Linked DNA regions of Homo sapiens. The protein of the gene in region 1 interacts with the protein of each later gene in a pairwise test. Each region holds a gene or a part of one and is shown in the gene's direction. Other genes may lie near its edges.

The links.
Region 2: the proteins of DLC1 (region 1) and HSD17B3 interact in a two-hybrid assay, tested with the Homo sapiens proteins (one large-scale study listed by BioGRID and IntAct).
Region 3: the proteins of DLC1 (region 1) and FBP2 interact in a two-hybrid assay, tested with the Homo sapiens proteins (one large-scale study listed by BioGRID and IntAct).
Region 4: the proteins of DLC1 (region 1) and HEMGN interact in a two-hybrid assay, tested with the Homo sapiens proteins (one large-scale study listed by BioGRID and IntAct).
Region 5: the proteins of DLC1 (region 1) and TMOD1 interact in a two-hybrid assay, tested with the Homo sapiens proteins (one large-scale study listed by BioGRID and IntAct).
Region 6: the proteins of DLC1 (region 1) and ACOT7 interact in a two-hybrid assay, tested with the Homo sapiens proteins (one large-scale study listed by BioGRID and IntAct).

The regions. Positions count from the first base shown.
Region 1 is NC_000008.11:13,497,852-13,501,351, reverse strand, and holds part of DLC1 (rho GTPase-activating protein 7), read left to right. Parts: intron 1-1,155; 5' UTR 1,156-1,280; coding exon 1,281-2,303; intron 2,304-3,500. UniProt on the Homo sapiens protein: Functions as a GTPase-activating protein for the small GTPases RHOA, RHOB, RHOC and CDC42, terminating their downstream signaling.
Region 2 is NC_000009.12:96,250,177-96,253,676, reverse strand, and holds part of HSD17B3 (17-beta-hydroxysteroid dehydrogenase type 3), read left to right. Parts: intron 1-766; coding exon 767-874; intron 875-2,191; coding exon 2,192-2,259; intron 2,260-3,415; exon of another isoform or gene 3,416-3,500. UniProt on the Homo sapiens protein: Catalyzes the conversion of 17-oxosteroids to 17beta-hydroxysteroids. Favors the reduction of androstenedione to testosterone. Testosterone is the key androgen driving male development and function. Uses NADPH while the two other EDH17B enzymes use NADH.
Region 3 is NC_000009.12:94,573,325-94,576,824, reverse strand, and holds part of FBP2 (fructose-1,6-bisphosphatase isozyme 2), read left to right. Parts: intron 1-2,170; exon of another isoform or gene 2,171-3,500.
Region 4 is NC_000009.12:97,931,673-97,935,172, reverse strand, and holds part of HEMGN (hemogen), read left to right. Parts: intron 1-3,500. UniProt on the Homo sapiens protein: Regulates the proliferation and differentiation of hematopoietic cells. Overexpression block the TPA-induced megakaryocytic differentiation in the K562 cell model. May also prevent cell apoptosis through the activation of the nuclear factor-kappa B (NF-kB).
Region 5 is NC_000009.12:97,504,666-97,508,165, forward strand, and holds part of TMOD1 (tropomodulin-1), read left to right. Parts: intron 1-3,500. UniProt on the Homo sapiens protein: Blocks the elongation and depolymerization of the actin filaments at the pointed end. The Tmod/TM complex contributes to the formation of the short actin protofilament, which in turn defines the geometry of the membrane skeleton.
Region 6 is NC_000001.11:6,338,268-6,341,767, reverse strand, and holds part of ACOT7 (cytosolic acyl coenzyme A thioester hydrolase), read left to right. Parts: intron 1-2,178; coding exon 2,179-2,335; intron 2,336-3,500. UniProt on the Homo sapiens protein: Catalyzes the hydrolysis of acyl-CoAs into free fatty acids and coenzyme A (CoASH), regulating their respective intracellular levels.

The DNA.
Region 1 (3,500 bases):
TGAGTTGACACTGGTATTATTTCTTTCCTTTAACTAAGGGTTTGAAGAATTCAAGGCAAAAATTTGGGTACCTGGTATGTGTTTGTATTCTAAGCTTGTCTTATGCATGATTTTCTTGTTTACTTAAATTTTATGGCCATATTCTAACAGAAATATGCAAACTAAACTTCTTATAAGCCAAACAGAATGAGACTGAAGTTTCTGAAGAATAGTCCCAATTGTCTTATAGTCATATCTTCCTTTATGTTCACTTGAATTCTTGCATAAAATATTTAGAGTTTACACATACTAAAGTTATGTGGGAAGAAGGGATGAAGGTAGAATCTCATAATTCCATGGAGACAATGAAGTTTGTTGACTATCTCAGTCTGGGCCTTAGAAGCAGGACCAAGTTTGAATCTCGGCTCACTTGCTACATGTATAACTTTAGTAAATTATTTAATTTCCCTTAAGCTTCAAAAATACCAGCTTGCAAGCTAGTAGTAGCAGTAGTAGGATGCATGTACAGATGTATCTGTCCTAATTGTAAATGGTATGTGTTATGCTTTCTAATCCATGCATTCTGTGTTAATATGTGCTAAACTGGATTATTCCATGTTTCTTAGTCATTCCCTGGAGTAACTACATACTGGTCGTTTGGGTTCGGTGTTAGCTCCTTCACACACTAATACATTACACATGCTGTCTCTATAGCTCAAGTTTTGCATGAACAGTTCCCTGGTGGCTTTCGCTGTGATTCAAACCAAACAGTGAATAGATTTATTTAACAACTTGTGTTCACAAAAGTAAATCAGGAAAACATGCAAGCCAGAACAATGTTTCTTCCAGTGATTTTTATTAAGTATTGCATTTCACATATTTTCTTAATGGAGTTTTAAATGTTCAGTATTTGTATCTTTATTCATTAATGGACCAATCCAACTGCCTTTAAATGCCTTTAAAAGTATTGCTGATGATTTTTATCAGAAATATTCAATGTTAAATTTCCTTCTAGTATTAGGCTTCTTAAAGAAATGACATTATTAAAGCTACTAAACAGAAGCTTTATAAAATCTCTTAACTTTGATAGCATAGATTAAGTTTTCTCTTTTCTAAGATATATTTTGACTTTAGAAACGTATCTGCGACTACATATTTTTTTGAATTTTTTAATAGGTGGTGAAATGACAGAACTCATTCGCTTCTTTGATTGGTGATTTTGAAATAATCTTTCATCAAGTTCCATCTCCTTTACCCTCATATGGAATATATCTCTCTGTCTGTTGTTAAACTACGATGACATGTCTGTAGCTATCAGAAAGAGAAGCTGGGAAGAACATGTGACCCACTGGATGGGACAGCCTTTTAATTCTGATGATCGTAACACAGCATGTCATCATGGACTAGTAGCTGACAGCTTGCAGGCAAGTATGGAAAAAGATGCAACTCTAAATGTGGACCGCAAAGAGAAGTGTGTTTCACTACCTGACTGCTGTCATGGATCAGAGCTGAGAGATTTTCCTGGGAGGCCAATGGGTCATCTTTCAAAGGATGTGGACGAAAATGACAGCCATGAAGGTGAAGATCAGTTTCTTTCTCTGGAAGCCAGCACAGAAACACTAGTGCATGTTTCTGATGAGGATAACAATGCTGATTTATGCCTTACAGATGATAAACAGGTTTTAAATACCCAAGGGCAGAAAACATCAGGCCAACATATGATCCAAGGAGCAGGCTCCTTAGAAAAGGCACTGCCCATCATACAAAGTAACCAAGTTTCTTCTAACTCCTGGGGAATAGCTGGTGAAACTGAATTAGCACTGGTAAAAGAAAGTGGGGAGAGAAAAGTTACTGACTCTATAAGTAAAAGCCTGGAGCTTTGCAATGAAATAAGCTTAAGTGAAATAAAAGATGCACCCAAAGTAAATGCAGTGGATACTTTGAACGTGAAAGATATTGCACCTGAGAAACAATTGCTTAACTCTGCTGTAATTGCTCAGCAACGAAGGAAACCTGACCCCCCTAAAGATGAAAATGAAAGAAGCACCTGCAATGTAGTACAAAATGAGTTCTTGGATACTCCTTGCACAAACAGAGGACTGCCATTATTAAAAACAGATTTTGGAAGCTGCCTTCTGCAGCCTCCTTCCTGCCCCAATGGAATGTCAGCTGAAAATGGCCTGGAGAAGAGTGGTTTTTCACAACATCAAAACAAAAGTCCACCAAAGGTCAAGGCAGAAGATGGCATGCAGTGTTTACAATTAAAGGAGACCCTGGCCACCCAGGAACCCACAGATAACCAAGTCAGACTTCGTAAGAGAAAGGTAAGACATATGCACAGATTCTCTGGCTTTTGAAATTTTGTAAATATCCTTGGATTTATCAGTTATCATTTTGCTTGGATTAAAAAGATATGAAGATGGTTCTTTTGCCCTGTTATGCAGATGTGTAATTCAACGACTACCCACTTGGTCAAACCATCAAAATATGTAAAAATTAAAGAATAATAATCTATCCGTTTCACTAATAATGTGTATAATGGTTTATGAATATTCTATTTCAGAATTGTGTTGAAAACAGGATTGGTATCCCTTTCTTTAGTTGGAATTAAATAGCCACTAGATAGCTCATAGACATGCAATTCAAGGCATTCTGTAGAGTGATTTCTAATTCTTATAAAGAAAGTCATGGTACTGTTATAGCATTTATTTGGGCATATTTCTTTTTCTCTTCAAAAAGACTATGTTTTCATAAGAAAAAAAGGTGGTATAAATCACATATTTAAAATAATCCCCTCACATATACAAAGGCTAAACTACTCCCACCCCCAAAATGTGCTGGTGCCATTTTAAGTGATACCCTGGCACACTCACCATCAATATATATATCATAGTCTCTGTTTCTTGCCACAACTGTTACTTAACTGTCAACCAGAAAAGGCTAATAACCACAATTATGTTTTATGCTACAGCCCCTTTGACTAATTCTAAAGATGCCATCCTCCCCTGCGAAGCTTTCAAGTGAGAGAAGCAAGGGCTAAGATGGTGCTACCTGAATTATGGTTTAGCAAGTGAACCCTTGACCAAAACCTGTCTTTTCTATAGAATTTCCCCACATTTTTCCAAAAACTGTAGTGAGTTATAGTCCTGATATAAGTCCAAGCACAGTTTCTTCTTCTATAAACCCCACATGGCCAATGGCATGGAAGAAACCCTGCATTTTTGACACTGGTATGCACTGATTAAAACATATATCCTTGCCCCTCTCTTGATACATTCATCCATAACTGCAATTCTCCTAAACACAAAAGTAATGTTCTTTGTTCTGTTCAACTGGGGCTATCTACCATGAGAGAGAAAAAAAAATCTACTACTTTCTTTGTAGTGAAGAAATCTGGTTTTCATAGACTGTGGTTTTGCTTACAAACTAGATCAGTAATGTGTCGTGAGTTAGTTTAAATGAAGTCAAAGACTTTACAGCAAAAATCAGTGTCCACAAGCTATATGCTAACAGAGCATTTT
Region 2 (3,500 bases), on another chromosome or scaffold:
AACTCTGTAGCTTTCACATCTGACGGAAAACTCCCGCAGAAGGCAAGTTAACACAGAGTAGTGGGGAGCGCATTGAACGTGGAGTGACCAGAGAGTGGATGGTCTTGGCTACGTCAGTTAGCTTCTCTGAGCCTTCATTTTCTCCTCTGGAAAATGAAAGTCATAATGCCTACTTTAGAAGGTTGTAGGGACAATGACCATAAGACATTGTGTATGTAAATGCTCTGTGAATGCTAAAGCATTGGACAAATACAAAGAGTTGTTGGGTCTGTGTGGAGGAGACTTGACACTTGTGAGCAGAGGCAGTGTCAGACCTTGCTTTTACAGCTGTCAGTCTGGGGTCTCGAACTTGAGCAAGCAGCAGAGTCCCTCGGAGGTGTGTTAAGCAGGTGGCTGGCTGGGCTCCACCCACAGAGTTTCTGATGCAATAGGTCTGGGGTAGAGCCCGAGAATTTGCATTTCTGGCAAGTTTCCCTGTAACCCTGATGCTGTGGTTTGTGGACTCCACTTTGAGAACCGCTGCAGTAAATCTATCTTAATGCATATACGTGTCCCTGCAGTAACTCTTAGAGACACGTAGGAACCACCATTCACCAATCTTAGCACCTCCCAACATTTACCCAGAACCATGTCCCATTTTTATTTGGGGCAATGGGCTGTCCTCTTCAATGTCTGCTCAGGTAATACAGGAGCACTGGGGGAAACTTCATGGGCGAGGGGGCATTTGGATCCCTGTTCATTAAAAAAACTGTTGTCTCTCGTGTAGAGCGGACTACAGGGAGGAGTGTGAAGATTATACAAGCAGATTTTACAAAAGATGACATCTACGAGCATATTAAAGAAAAACTTGCAGGCTTAGAAATTGGAATTTTAGGTGAGTAAATTGCAAGATGCAAAGCTTGTTGTCATACATCAGTGAAATAACCTGACACTGATGAGTGACATTTGATTATTTCATGGTGATTTATACTCAAACCATGACTGTATTTTAAGCTGTCCCATTAAGTTGAATATCAAAGCACACTTCTTCTAGAGGCATTACTGAATAAAAAAATTTATATATTGGTTTGGAATGTATCAAACATACATATTTCAACCCCCAACTATATTTTCTTTTCTTTTTTTTTTTTTTTTGAGATGCAGTCTCGCTCTGTCACCCAGGCTGGAGTGCAGTGGTGTGATCCCGGCTCACTGCAACCTCTTTCTGCCAGGTTCAAGTGATTCTCCTGCCTCAGTCTCCCAAGCAGCTGGGACTACAGGCGCCTGCTACCATGCCCAGCTAATTTTTGTATTTTTAGTAGAGATGGGGTTTCACCATATTGGCCAGGCTGGTCTCAAACTCCTGACCTCGTGATCCACCTGCCTCGGCCTCCCAAAGTGTTGGGATTACAGGTGTGAGCCACTGCACCCGGCCGGACCAACTATATTTTCTAATATTAAAATGAATTTTCTTTTATGGAACTGACGTTGACATTTGGCAGAAAAAGAATCCCAGAAACATTGGCCTAAAGGAATTAGTTTAGCAAACAAACATTGCTGTGATTGATCCATGAAATAGTATAGTTGAGAATTGACTCTCTTTCTTATTCAGAAAACAAGATAATATTTATTTCTGTAATGATTTATAGACAAGATACTTTACGGCCGCGTGCACAGTGCAGTGTTTATGGTATATATAGAAGAAAGTCAAATTGGATTTCTAAACCTTCTGCTGAATTTTAAAAATAATTACATTTTTACATATGAAAGTGTACAGCATATCATTGCAGAAAAATTGGAAAGAATAGACAGGCTAATAAAATAAATATGAATCTCTTAAAATCCCAATATTCTGAGGTAGCATTTTGGTGCACATTTTTCTAATCCTAAACACACATATTTTCAAAACTGGAATTATACGTATGTGCTGTTTTGTCATATATTTTTAAAAAACTTACATCATGCATGTTCTCCCATGTAAGCAGCCCAGCCATAGTTTTTAATGACTACACTGCATTCCAACATATGACAACCCCATGATTCATTGAAGGTGTCTCCTATTACTGGACAAAAACTTCCCCCCAGTTTCCTCACCGTTACCAAATCATGCTGCGATGAACAACCTTACATGTCAATCTTTTTGTACATGGTTCTTTGGGAAAATCTCCCACCTGATCTTCTGACACATTTTTGTTTTGCTTCTTTCTGCCAGTCAACAATGTCGGAATGCTTCCAAACCTTCTCCCAAGCCATTTCCTGAACGCACCGGATGAAATCCAGGTAGACTTGTGCTCTTCTGTGTATAGATTCCTCTTATCCAGGTTCTGGGTCCCCTGGCTGGGTAATGAGTCAGGCCTGGGAAGGCGTGATGGAAGCATGCATCTGGCCGAAATCCTGGACTGTATGTATTGAGGCCCCCTTTCCTCTTCACCTTAGCACTCGATCCACAGTCAAGAGTACCACTTTTCACGATATCTCTAGGATATGGACATCTTCCTCCTTCTCTGCACATCAAAACTTACCTGTCCATTGTCCTATGCTTCTGGGGTGCTGCACTCTACTTTATAAAGGGTAATTCTGCCTAACACATTCGCAGCTGTGAACATATATGGGAGAAGACCAGCTCTTTGGCTTTCTCTGTCTTCCCAGGTACTAAGATTTGTGTAACTTTCAGTGTGAGGGAAGTATATGACACAAACTCTATGGCTGGCAGGATTGTAAGTTCAGTAAACTTGGCTCAGACCCATGACTGCCATTGTTGGTTGGGAGTACATTTTTAATGGATTTAACAGTTCTTTTTTTTTTTTTTTGAGATGGAGTCTCCCTCTGTCGCCCAGGCTGGTGTGCGGTAACATGATCTCGGCTCACTGCAACCTCTGCCTCCCGGGTTCAAGCGATTCTCCTGCCTCAGCCTCCTGAGTAGCTGGGACTGCAGGCGCCTGCCACCACGCCCAGCTAATTTTTGTATTTTTAGTAGAGACGGGGGTTTCACTATGTTGGTCAGGCTGGTCTCGAACGCCTGACCTCAGGTAATCCACCTGGCTCGGCCTCCCAAAGTGCTGGGATGACAGGCGTGAACCACTGCGCCCGGCCGCATTTAACAGTTTTTGAAGGCACAATTTGTTGACCCTTTCTTAGGCCCTGACCTTTGGAGTCATTAGGGCTACACCAATCTGAACAGGCTCTCATGCTTCCATTCCCCACTTCTGCAGGTATCCCATCGTCCTGTGTAAGCCCCGAGTCTGCTGCACCGGGTGATAATGCCAGACTGCTTGGGCGCTGCTGCACATCCTCACCAAACTCCTGAACTCCTCTCTGGACCACACATCTCCTGTGTGGGCTCTGTCTCCCACACTCTGTTTCTGGCACAAATCTACGTCTCTTCAAGAAGCAAGTTCCAGGGTTGCTCCTCTGCCTGTGTGTGTCTGTGTTTGTGCTAGTGTCTGTGTCCGTCCTCTTGTCCTTTCTCTTTATCTTTGGTCATTCTAGTGGTTTCTTTACCTGCCCTCCATAGCCCAGAA
Region 3 (3,500 bases), on another chromosome or scaffold:
ATGCTCAAATGGTGTCACTAGTGGCCAAGTCTAAATAGAGCAGAGTCCCAGTGACATCCCAAAAGAGGCAGATGGTGGTCAAATGCACTCCGACTAACTCACCAAGTTCCGAAGTTTCAAAGTTCCAAAATTCCAAAGTTTGTCACTTCTCTAAAAGTCACTTTCAGTGCACCAGTGAAATATTGGAGGTAGCAGGCACTGCAGCAGGAAGAGAAAGAGAGGATCCCCAAGACAAAAGCATCTAGGCAGCTGCAGGAGACTCCCTAGCATTCCAGCCAAGGGGTCAGGTAGCCACAAGCAACTGGAGCCTACAGGCAGCCCCACAGGCCCTGTCCAATAGAAACCAGACCATGGGCTTGGGCCCCCAGAGCACACTGTATGGGCCACTAAAATTGTAACTGAATGCAGGTCCACATGCTCACTGCCTGCAGAGTCCAGTTAACAAGAGTGAGGCCTGGTAGATAGAAAGTGACTTTATTAACCACAACTAGTAAAGGGGAAGTGGCCAGATTCCCATCAAAGCAACCACTTTGACTATTTCGGGGGAAGGGAGGGGTTTAAAAGAGGAAAACTTGATTAAGGAGGGCATGCAAGAGAATTGTGCTGAGTACAGTATCTCTGGGTCTTGTTTTTATGATTATCTTTGGTGCCAGTCCACCTGGACCTCAGGCTGACATCATCTCAACAGTGGCCGAGTTGTTAATTAGCTGCATGGAAGTAATCTCTGGAATTTTGCAGCTAGGTCTCCATGCTTGGTCTGTCCGTCTCAAGATTACCTCCTGGAACTTCTAAGAAGGCACATAATAGATACTAGCATGCAGTTAGCTAAATGTGCAGGGAGTATATATGGTGAGAAAGGGAGCTATTTTATAGCTAAGAGAAAAGACTTCTGCAGTTTGCTTCAAGGTTATATCTTGAAACCCAAGAGAAGGGAAAAATGTTTTAAAATATATTATGAAGTTAAGCTGCCCAGTTACGTTAGGAAGATGGAAATTAAAACCACAGTGAGACACCATTCTCCTCTTCCAGAGTGGCTAAATCTAAAAAGACTAAGCATACCAAGTGTTGGCAAAGAAACTGGAATTCTTATACCTCATTGGTGGGACTATCAAATAGTATAACTACTTTGGAAAACATTTGATAGGACCTACTAATGCTAAACAGATATTTACACACTATGGCCAAGCAATTTCACTCCTGGGACCCACACAGAAGAAAGGAATTCTGTGTCTGCCCAAAGATGGAGAAATTAGTCATAGTAGCCCCAAACCAGAAAAATCCAAATGCATATCAACATGAGAATGGAGAAATAAATTGTGATATAGTCATACAACAGAAAACTACATAGCAATGAAAAAGAACAAACTGCTATGTATAACAACATAGGTAAAATTGCAAAGAAATAAACTTGAAAATCATAAGCCATACAAAAGAACATATGCAGTGTCATTTCATTTAGATGATGTTCCAAACCAGATAAAGTTAGATTTGGTGATAAAGGTGAGAATAGAGGTTACCTTTGGCAGGAGGTGATAGTGACTGGAAGAGACTACTAGGCCTGGCTTCACTAGGCTTAAAGTCCACTAGGTTGCTGGAAATGTTATATAAATGGATCTGGATGTTATGTAAAATATTCTATAAATACACATAAGTGTATATTATATATTTGTAAAAATTTATCAAGATGTACCATTAAGATTTGTATGCTCTGCTATATGCTTTATACCTCAACAAAAAGGAAAAAAGTCCACATTTCATAATTTCTACCACCAAATACATGGAGCTCTTGCAATTTTCATTAATTTTACCAAAAAGTAGTGGTAGGAAGCACCACTTATCTGATGGGCTCAGATATTTATTGGTGTAGAAAAAAATAAAAAGACGCACTAAATCATTTGCAAACTACTATAAAATTTACTGAGAAAGGTGTCATGGCAATGAAGATTGCTGATATAAACTGGGTTTTTGAAATCTCAGGACCGTGTTAGACAAATACAAAAACTGAACCATTCTTTTTTTTCCATGCATAGAAATAAATTACAGATGAGTTGATGAGTTTGGTAGAGAGGTGGGGAATAAAACCAGAAAGAAAAGACAAGAATATTTGTGTCACCCTGTCTTGATGTAGGAGAAATTCAGTCTAAACATAAAGACAAGAGAAGAAAACATATGGAATGTCATGAATAATTTTAATTTTAAAACTGCACTGCAAAAACAGGCACCATAAATAAGAAGGCAATGACAATCGAGGAAAATATTTGTGACATATACAAGACATTAATATCCTTTATATATAAAGAGCTATTAAAATAAACAAGAAGTTGAATATCCTGATAGAAAAATAAGCAAGACATGAAAGAGACAACTTACAAAATAAAAATGGTCAAAATAAACATATAAAAGGTTTTACCTGACTCATAAAAAATAGAAGTTAAAACAAAAGAGATGTCATTTTGTCCACCTGTCAAATTGACAAAGTTGAAAAGACAATGCTATCTTGTGTTTACCAGGCTGAATTAAAATGAACTCTCTTATTATTAGTGGTAAAAGTATAAATTGATGCACTCTTTCTGGAGGACAATTTTTCAATATGTATCAAAAGATTTTTACCCAATTATTTAATTATTGGGAATTTATCTTGGGAAAATGATCAGAGAATTGTGTATTTATGCAGTAGATTGTTAATCTCAGGTTGCCTTGTTTTTCAAAAGGATAAAAAGAGAATATTAGAAACAACTCCACATGCATACATTTGACAACTTAGATGAAACGAACCAATGTCTCAAAAACTACAATACTCTAACTCACCCAATATAAAATAGATACTTTGAATGGCTATCTACAGGGCTCAATACTATTAAGAAACTCATGCCCAAGAAAAGAAATCTCCAGGCTCAGATGGTTTACTGGAAAAACATAACAAATATTCACAGATTATTCAGTCTCTTCCAGAAAAGATAATAGGAAGGAACACTTCCCAATTCATTTTATGAAACCAGTGTTATCCTGATACAAAAACCAGACAAAGATTGTTCAAAAAAATACCACAGACCAATATTCCTTATCAATAAATGCAAAAACTCTTAACAAAATATTGGCAAATAGAATTCAACAATACATAAAATAAATTATACACCATGGCTGAGTGGGGTTTATTCTGGTGATGGAAGACTGATCCAGTATTCATAATCAGTCAGTGTAATCCACCATATCAACAGGCTAAAGAAGAAAAATCACATAATCGTATCTATTGATGGAGAAAAAACATTTGAACAAATTCAACACTCATTCATTATTTAAAAAAGAAACTTGCTGAGGTAGGAGGATTGCTTGAGGCCAGGAGTTTGAGACCAGCCTGGGCAACATAGCAAGACCCCCATCTCAAAAAAGACATTAGCTGGAGAGGGGGGTGGTAGTGCATACCCGTAGTCCCAGCTACTCAAGAAGTTGAGATGGGAGGATGACTTAAGCCCAGGAGTTGGAGGCTGCAGTGAGCCATG
Region 4 (3,500 bases), on another chromosome or scaffold:
ATGATGTCAGTATAATGTGGGGGTTGTGTTGGTTCATGATTTTTTCCTAGTCAGAAGAAAGCAGAATAGTGGGAAGAGAATTAAAGCTTTCAGCTGGAAAGAAAAAGCCTTCAGCTTGGCTGTTGTATAAGCAGGATTCTTTTCAGCCAGCATCCAGGGTTCCCTCCTCAGAGAGGCACAACACCAGCCTTGCGCAGCTCTCCATCAAGTGGCAGCTTGCACTTCCCTCCTGTGCCCAACTTAACGGCAACCCCGCTGGCTCAGAGCTCAGGTCTCAGCAGCTTCAAGCCTGCAATTACACTATATTTGCATTTACTATCCCCTGAGGCAGCCTCCAGCCACAGTAAACTGCTTGTCTAGACCATCCAAGTTCTCTCTCCTGGTACCAATTATTGTTTTAGTTAGTGTTAAAATGTTGCAAGGGTTTTGAATCATTTGTCCCAAGCCTATTTGCCCCACCTCCATAACCACTGTAACTTTATAGAGGATGATTTTGCAGAAAGTGAGGTTTTTTTAGGAACACGTGTATCATTTTACAGTAGAAATATTTGTATTAGGGTCCTGTGGCAGGTCTATTGAAGATTATCCAATTAGCTCCCAAATTCCATACCACTAAGCAATCTTCCAATCATTACTTGGCTTCCCAAGTACTTATCTACAGAGACGGTGCATTTGTTTGGGAGCCCAGAACCCAGGTATTCTCCTCCCCTCCCCTCCCCCCTCCCCTCCCCTCCCCCTCCTCTCCCCCATCCCCTCCTCTCTCCTCCCCTCTCCTCTCCTTTTCTTTTTTCTCTTTCTCTCATTCATTCATTCATTCACTCGTTTTGAGACAGAGTCTCACTCTGCTGCCCAGGCTGGAGTGCAGTGGCACAATCTCGGCTCACTGCAACCTCTGCCTCCCAGGTTCAAGTGACTCTCCTGCCTCAGCTCCCAAGTAGCTGGGAATACAGGCACTGGCCACCACGCCCAGCTAGTTTTTGTATTTTTTAGTAGAGACGGGGTTTCGCCATGATGGCCAGGCTGGTCTGGAACTCCTGGCTTCAAGTGATTCGCCCACCTTGGCCTCCCAAAGTGCTGGGATTACAGGCGTGAGCCACTGTGCCCAGCCAGTCCAGGTATTTTCTACTATGTGACTTTGTATGTCTGTTCATTTAAAAATTGGTCTTTAGGTTTATATGTCAGTCTCCTTAAATCTGCTTGATGAGCTCTGCCCCTGATAAATGGAGGTAGTCTCAGTGTGCTAACAGAATCAGGTTTCTGGGCTTGCTGGGCTGAGGGTATTCACTCAAATGGATAACACCTTAGTGAGCCTCTTGGCAGCTGGCTGGACTTGCTCTGGTGATACATCTCTATAATGCTAAGGCCTGTGCCCTCTTTTCTCACTACAACACACCATACAGTGAAACTTTATTAGTTTCAGAGAGAGGCAGCAGAGTGCATGGTTATGAGCCTGGCTGTTAAAGCCAGAATGACTAGATTCGTAGCCTGGCTCCCCTACTTGGTAGCCAGAGCCCTTGGAAATATTATGGAAAATAAATAATTCTCATTATAAACGAATAGATTGGCACTCTGGTTTATATACTAGTCTCTTTGCATTTAGTCTGTGTGTATTACTTCACTACCCCTGAGTAAACTCATACTCAGGGTTTCTAGACCTGCAATCCAGGCACGGCTCCTTATCTGTGCAGCCTGCAGGTGGATAATGTATATGGCTTGATTATCAAATACAAGTGTTGGGCAAGTTACTCAACATCTCTGTGTTTCAGTTTTGTCATTTGCAAAATGAAAATAATAACTACCTACTTCATAGACTGATGTGAAGATTATATGAGATAACAAAATAACTAAATTATTTAAACGGTGCCTGACATATACAAGCACTATAAGTGTTTCCTGTATTCATATGAGTCCTAATTTATATTTGAATAATTCATTCATGTAAGTTATTATATATAATTCTTATAACCACCACATGAAATTGGGCCGATATTATTTACCTCATTTCACTTACAAGGAAACCAAGGCATGTAGAGGTTAAGTGACTTGCCCACAACCATGAGAGAGTACAGACTAAAGTTTAGGCCACATAGGTATTTTTTGCATTTTTTGAAAAACTACCTGGGAAGACATGGACTATTACATTACTCAGATCTCCTCATACAGAGATTTAAATAACAACTTCTTTAGGATTTAATATCTAGGAAAAAATATGTGTTTCCTAAGGAACTTGGATTACTATTAATATCTTTTTCAAAAAATTTATCAGAATTTTATGATTTATCTTGTCACCTTGGTTACTTGTAGTAATAGTTCAAAATGCTGAGGTGCCATAACCATCATCTTTAGATTTCCTTTTTTTTTTTTTTTTTGAGACAGAGTCTCATTCTGTCACCCAGGCTGGAGTGCAGTGGCACAATCTCAGCTCACTGCAACCTCCATCTCCTGGGTTCAAGCGATTCTCTTGCCTCAGCCTCCCAAGTAGCTGGGATTACAGACGCGCACCACCATGCCTGGCTAATTTTTGTATTTTTAGTAGAGACGGGGTTTCACTATGTTGGCCAGGCTGGTCTTGAACTCCTGATCTCGTGATCCACCAGCCTCGGCCTCCCAGAGTGCTGGGATTACAGGCGTGAGCCAACGCACCCGGCCTAGATTTCCTTTTTTAAATATAATTTTCAATATTATTTTAGACTGCTCTGTTACATCTATACCTTTTTTTCTTTTTTTCTATAGCCTCATATTAGAAGTGAACATATATACTTTTTTGGTATTGACTTCAAACTGTGTTTGGTGAGGTAATCTTTTAAAAACACTTTTTTACAACGGAAATTTCAAACATACACAAAAAATGGAACAGGGTATACTTTTTTTAAATATGCAAGGAACGATGGGCACTATAAAGATGTAAAAAACACTGGTTTTTATCTCCAAAGACTGTCTAAAATGTTTACTAAAAGAAATACAGTTTCTTCAGAAATAACTACAGTATGAGGCAGCCTACATTCCTTGCCTTTAGCATGGTACACCCAATAAGTCCTATAGGAGTGCTAAGCTGGGAGAGCATTTTAGTCCTGTAGTCTCTTAGAGAAGGCTCCATGGAGCGGGTAGCATGAAACAGAATTTCAGTAGATTTAGAAAAATGATGAAATGCTTATTTATAGTACTTCCCCCAGCCCCCAGCCCCCAGCCCATCTGTATTAGCCATCTGTATTTGGTTGTATTTGCAGTGCCTAACAATTTGTCACTGGCTGCAATTACCATGCATATCCTTTCATCTTCTAGATCTTTAATTTATTAATTAGGAATAGGTATAATATGGCCACTCATGCCTATCTACCTGACTTCTTAACTTCAAGAAGTGCTTTTGCAGCTTTTGACCCCTTACAGTATACCTCATTTGATATATACTGTAGCAACTTAGAATTCTTTACACAAAATAATGTATTTGATAATCAAGCCATATACAGCATCCACCTGCAGGCTGCACAGACGAGGAGCTG
Region 5 (3,500 bases), on another chromosome or scaffold:
GTATCTGCGATGGAGGATGGTGATGGGCTGTGAAGAGTGTTTTGACCCTGCTCTGGGGCCTCATAACCTTGGCTTATTTATTTCTGAAATGACATCATCTATCGATGACTCCTGCTGAGCCCGGTCGTAATGGCCTTTTCCAGTCAATGTTTTGACTTTTCAGTCTTACTAATGGACCAGCCAGGCTGCCAACATTTCTAAAGAGGCCAGTTTACTTTTCCCTTAAAGCCAGAACACCAGATAAATCAATTATTGGGCTGCTAGGAGCCATTATCAGTTTAAAACCACAGGCCTGTTTCTATGGAAAAGCATGAACCAGATAGCACAATTCCGGGCCATTTCCTCTCTTTTGTTTTGTTTTGTAAAATCTTCCTTTGGCTAATCATGATAGAACCTAATTCTCTTTGCTCTTAATGAGAGAATGAGCTCATTGGAGTCAACTTAGGACACGGTCTGGGAGGTTTTCTTTCGTGTTAGGTGTTGCTGGGTTTTTGTCTGATCTGAAAAACTAAACAAACTCAAGCATGCCTTTTGTTTCTCCTTCTCTTATGTCCTTTTGGTTTTCTTTCAGAGAAAAAAATGATTTGTGAAAGGGTTGGACATTACCATCTGTGAGGAGGAAAGAGGGAGGGAGAGGGAGACAAGGGCTTGCGTCCGTCCACGCATGTCCATCCCTGTCTCAGTTCATGTTCTCAGGGGCCCCAGCCTCAGGCCCCACTCACTCTGGGGCTTCAAGGGTGGTGACCCCAGGGCCGTTTCTAGCGATGATTCTGGAGGGTGATGAGTTGTGACCACTGCGTTGTTGCTCTCCATGCCCAAAGGAATGAAGGAAAGCAGAACTGCCTCTGGGCATCCTTCAGCCTCCTTCATAGACTCATCGCTGCTGCCCATCGCTTTGCTGTTGGTGCCTTGGTGCCACTCCTACCCCTATTCTCTTTCCACCGCACACTCTCACAGTCTCATTCACTCCCACGACTCCAGTCACCTCCCAACTCCCTAATTCTTGCATCAAGCTGGACTGTGCTCCTCATCTATAGACATCTCTGCCTCCTGATTCCTTTCTCTTCACCACCCCATTCATTTGCCCACCAAGTCCTGTCAATGCTACCTTCCTTAATTTCTCTTACATCCATTTCTATCGCCACATCCAGTACCCCAGTAAGGACTTCCTCTCTCCCCTAAGCTGCTCTCAGAGCCTCTTAAAGGTATTTCTGCCTCAAGTCATTCCTTCTTCCATGCTGCTCTTAAAAGATCTTCACCTGCGTCAATTGTCTCCCTTCAGGGACTCCCCATTTCCTAAGGGATAAAGACCAGATTCATTAGCCTCTAAGACCGGGCCTCAAGCTACTTCTCCAAAATCATCTCTAGGCACTCCTCCAAATTCTCTTTACCTTCTGGCCATGGCAAAAGCATGCTGTGCCTTCATGCCTCCCTGCCTTTCCCCTGCTGTTCTTTCGGCCTTCAGTGCTGTTCTCCCTCTTCTCAGTCTGTGAACTTGTAATCACCCTTAAAAGCAAAGTTCTTCATTGATTTACCTGTACCCCCACAGCCCCCTGTGCCAACTCAGAGCACCAGCCAGAGTGTGTTCTAAATGGAACCACCCAATGATGTATCTCTGTCTCTGGCTAGACTAAAAGCTCCCTGAGGACGAGGTTTCTGACTCATTTATTTCTGCTTCCCCATGTGCAGCTCAGAGCTTAATGTGTGACATAGTACAGGCACTTCAGGTTTTAATAAATGGCTGACCACCGAATGAATGAATGAATGCATGAAATAAATGAATGAAGGCTCTGTGATAACCAGGACAGTCACACAACACCAACCAGCATTTACAGCATGTTCTCCTACCCGACCAAATCATCAGCTCTATGAGGGCAGAGACCACACCTATTCTGCTCCCCACTGCCAGCTCTCCAGCTCCTATCAGCCCCATCATGATACGTAGCTAGTGTGAATCCAAGAGCTCATTTGAAATTCACAGTAACCCCATGAGGGAGGAACAGCAAGTATTGTTACCTACCTTTTGTAATGGGACAGTGAACCCTAGTAGGAATTGTCCCAGGTCATCCAATTCCAGAAAACTGAAGTGCTCTCCAGGGTTTGACAAACTTGAGAAATGAGTCTTCTTGTTTTATATCCGTGCTTCTCTAACTTTAATGTGCATTGAAATTACTTGGGATCTTTTCAGAAATGCAGATTCTGGTTCAGTAGGTATGAGATGGGGCTTGAGAGTCTGAGTTTCTAAAAAGCTCCTTGCTTCTAATAAGCTCTAATAAGTTGATTAGAAAATAAACTTAATAATTCCTAATAAGCTCTAATAAACATCTAGTCAGGTGGTGTTGACTAGTATCTACAAACCACCACATTTTGAACACCAAGGTGAGTGCTAGTTACCACAAAGCTTCCTCCTGGCCATTGCATTAAGATAGTGGATTTTTAAATCTACAAATGAATTCATTTGTGCCTTGGATCAAAATCAAGGGCTCTTTCTGGTCAGCAAACTTCTTGCAAGTTTGGATCTATGAGCACAAGATGGGTGCCTGGGCAGTGCTGGGATGGGAACCTGAGACACCTGAGACCCTGAGACATCAAAACCACTCAGAAGTGTGCAAAGTGAAGGTAAGAGAGAGGGAGACGTGAGGACAGACTTCCTCCATGCAAACCAAGAGAGATTTAAAAATTCAGAATGGATAGCAACATTGCACGCATTTGCTTATTATGGTTTTACATTGTATTCCACTTACAGCATTAAAAAGGCTTGAGATGGCTTAAAAAATAAACTACATGACCAATGCAACTAGTAAGAACAGAAATTCTAGAAAGACAGGCAGAAACCCTGAAGATTAAGATCACGAAACTCCTGGAGAATCTGATTAGAGCTTATGAATTCTTGCTCCACAAAAATGAATATATTCATATACACAACAATTTGCATATCATTTCAGTGGGTGTGTGATTCCCCTGAAGCCTATTCAAAAGTCCGGGTTAAGAGCACCCGATACAGAGAATAAAGAGAGAAAATTATGCCAGTGCCCTGGCTGAAGATGACAACTGTATTTGGACACTCAAATTGGCTCTGAGATGACTCATGGCAGCCAAGGGGAAAGGGGGGGACAAGATGAATGGGAGGACTCTTGGTGTCTGATAGTAGAAGGAAGAACATCAATCAGTCTTTCAGGAGAGGGAACTATTTTCTTAACCCCAATCCTCAGTATATTGTCAAGACAGGCCACTAGACAGAGGGCATAGTAGTTAAGGCGGACTCCGGATCAGTCTGCACAAGGCCAGGGAACCTAGGAGCAATGAAGGGCAGACTCAAATCCTTCATTAGTCCTTTGGGGGGCCTTAAATAGCAATTGACACATAATGAAACACAATCTATCTTCCTGATTCACACACACACACACACACACACACACACACACACACACACACACACAGACTCTGGAGACCACCTTGCTGGATTCAAATCCAAGGTCTACTAGTTACTGGCTCTGTAA
Region 6 (3,500 bases), on another chromosome or scaffold:
TAACATTGAAAAAAATTTTTTTTTTTGAGACGGAGTCTCGCTCTGTCGCCCAGGCTGGAGCGCAGTGGTGCGATCTTGGCTCACTGCAAGCTCCGCCTCCCGGGTTCACGCCATTCTCCTGCCTCAGCCTCCCGAGTAACTGGGACTACAGGCACCCACCACCACACCCGGCTAATTTTTTGTATTTTTAGTAGAGACGGGGTTTCACCATGTTAGCCAGGATGGTCTCGATCTCCTGACCGTGTGATCCACCCGCCTTGGCCTCCCGAAGTGCTGGGATTACAGGCGTGAGCCACCACACCTGGCCACTTTTAAATTTTTAAAAAGAATAGTTGGGCCGGGCACGGTGGCTCACGCCTGTAATCCCAGCACTTTGGGAGGATGAGGCAGGCGGATCATCTGAAGTCAAGAGTTTGAGGCCAACATGGTAAAACCCCGTCTTTACTAAAAATACAGAAATTAGCCAGGCGTGGTGGTGCACATCTGTAATCCCAGCTACTCAGGAGGCTGAGGCAGGAGAATTGCCTGAATCCTGGAGGCGGAGGTTGCAGTGAACCGAGATTGCACCACTGCATTCCAGTCTGGGCAACAGAGTGAGACTCCATCTCAAAAAAAAAAGAATAGTGATTGCAAAGAGCCATGTCACAACACGGGCAGATTATTTTTCCCATACTGAATGAAAAAGAATCAAGGTGAGAGTGTATTTAGTGTTTTGTTGTTGTTGTTGTTTTTGAGATGGAGTCTTGCTCTGTCACCCAGGCTGGAGTGCAGTGGCGCAATCTCAGCTCACTGCAACCTCCCCGTCCCGAGTTCACCTGATTCTCATACCTCAGTCTCCTGAGTAGCTGGGATTACAGATGTGCACCGCCACGCCCGGGTAACTTTTGTATTTTTAGTAGAGATGGAGTTTCACCATGTTGGCCAGGCTGGTCTCGAACTCCTGGCCTCATGTGATCCGCCCACCTCGGCCTCCCAAAGTTCTGGAATTATAGTCATGAGCCACCGCGCCCGGCCTAAAGAAGAATAGTGATTGCAAAGAATGTGTCACAACACAGGCAGATTATTTTTCCTACGTTGAATGAAAAAGAATCAGAAGGTGAGGGTGTATACTTAGTTTTTGCACAGCTATATTAGACTAAAACTGTGAAACGAGCCAGGCAGACGAACAAGTGAGACAACAAAACCCACCCCGATTCTTGGGAAAAAAGCCTGGAAAGACAGATCCCAAAATAGTAACCATGGTTATCTTTGAATGGGAGGAGTGACGTTCCCCTTCTTTCTACTTTTCTGTATTTCCCAAATTTTCCATAATGGGTATGTATGCATTTGTTCACTTTATATTAAGCAAATAATGCATGCCTATTGTGAGAAAATCAGAAGAAAGGAAGAAGCAGCTGGTGATCCCATCACTTGGGGAATCGCCTGCAGCAGTTGCTTTGGGCTGGACTCTGCAGGGCTCCTCTACATCCCTGTGCTTTTGTGTTTAGGAATGCGCGGTGCTAGGCCGGGCGCGGTGGCTCATGCCTGTAATCCCAGCACTTTGGGAGGCCGAGGCGGGCGGATCACGAGGTCAGGAGATTGAGACCATTCTGGCTAACATGGAGAAACCCCGTCTCTACTAAAAATACAAAAAAATTAGCCGGGCATGGTGGCGGGCGCCTGTAGTCCCAGCTACTCGGGAGGCTGAGGCAGGAGAATGGCGTGAATCTGGGAGGCGGCGCTTGCAGTGAGGGGAGATCGCACCACTGCACTCCAGCCTGGGTGACAGAGCGAGACTCCATCTCAAAAACAAAAAACAAAACAAAACAAAAAAACAAAAAATTAGCTGGGCGTGGTGGCTGTAGTCCCAGCTACTCGGAAGGCCCGCTGTAGTCCCAGCGGGCGCCTGTAGTCCTAGCTACTCGGGAGGCTGAGGCAGGAGAATGTCGTGAACCCGGGAGGCTGAGCTTGCAGTGAGCTGAGATCTTGCCACTGCACTCCAGCCTGGGTGACAGAGCGAGACTCCATCTCAAAAAAAAAAAAAAAAAACCGCGGTGCCAATAAATGGTGATACATTGGTTGCTTTCACAGTGGGGAATGAAAGCAAAGGCAAAGACCGTTTCCAGGGGGCATGTCCTGGGTGGGGCTCTCGGGGCTGGGCTGGCTGACCTGGGCTGACAACTGCCTCTGTCTCCACAGGAGCGCTGTGTGGCCGCCCTGGCTCGTGTCGAGCGCACCGACTTCCTGTCTCCCATGTGCATCGGTGAGGTGGCGCATGTCAGCGCGGAGATCACCTACACCTCCAAGCACTCTGTGGAGGTGCAGGTCAACGTGATGTCCGAAAACATCCTCACAGGTACTTCTGGGAGCGACAGTGTTGACTGGAGCAGTAAGGGCCGTGGCTACACAGCTGCTTCCCTCCTGAGGGCAGAGGACGCTCCAGGGCCTGGCCCCTTTTCCACCAATGAGACCTCTCTCACCTCCCACCATGGCCCTGGGAGCAGCTATGTCCATTGCCCTGATTTTGCAGACAGGAAAGGGGCACAGAGGGGTTAGGAAACGAGTTCAGTTACCCAGAGCAGGACTCAACCCTGCTGTCTGGGTCCGGCCTGAGCACATCATGCTGCCTGTCCTGCTGCCCGTGGCCAGCTCATCCATGGCAGGGGCTGGGCGCGGGCTGTGAGGCCGGTACGCACCATCCACCCCTCTGCAGGTCTCCCTGCCCTGCTTGCCCTCCTCAAGCGTAGGGAGGTGTTGGCTCCAGAGAGGACAGTGCTTGCTCCTGGGAGCCCCAGAAACCAGGCTCAGATGGAAGCTCACTGGGTGAACCTTTGCCTCTGCTTTCATCTGAATATTCTCCTCCTTGGCCATGGTAACCATGGAAACCCCCTTCCCCTTCCCACTGGGCGCTGCAGGAGGGGGCGGCTCCAGTGTTCACCAGCTCACGCTTCTTTTTATACCCAGGCTGGGGACGGGAGGTGAGGGGGAAGGCGGGCCTCTTCCCCTGCCCCTGGTCCTCTCCCTGCCACCTCCCAGGTCACCAGTCCTCCCATGCAGAGAGGCTGGGCCGGTTTCCTCCTCTTCCCCATGCCTGTTCCTCAGCAGTGGCTGCCCCGTGGAGTGCCAGCTCACAGCCATTTGAGGGGCTTGAGTCCTCTTCCTCATGACGGGCCGGTAGCAAGCACGATTATGCATCTAGAACATTCTGAGGACCTCAGCAGGGTTGATTAGAATGGCTGTGTCAGCCCAGCTCCGGCAGGTGGGCAGATGGAGCTGAGCAAGGGCCTGGGGTGGAAGGTGGTCTGCGTTCCCATTGCCTGCTGCTCCCTCAGCAGGCACCTCTGACATCAGAGGGACCCTGGATGCTGGTCTCAGGATGTGGCCCAGGAAGGGGTGTATGGGCACCTCCCACAACAGGAGCAGCGCCCACGACTCGGGAGAGGCTCAGGGCTGGGTGGGTTCCCCACTTTAGGGGCCTTGGGGGTTCCCTGCCATCTCCTGTGAGATCGCAGCTCTTCTCC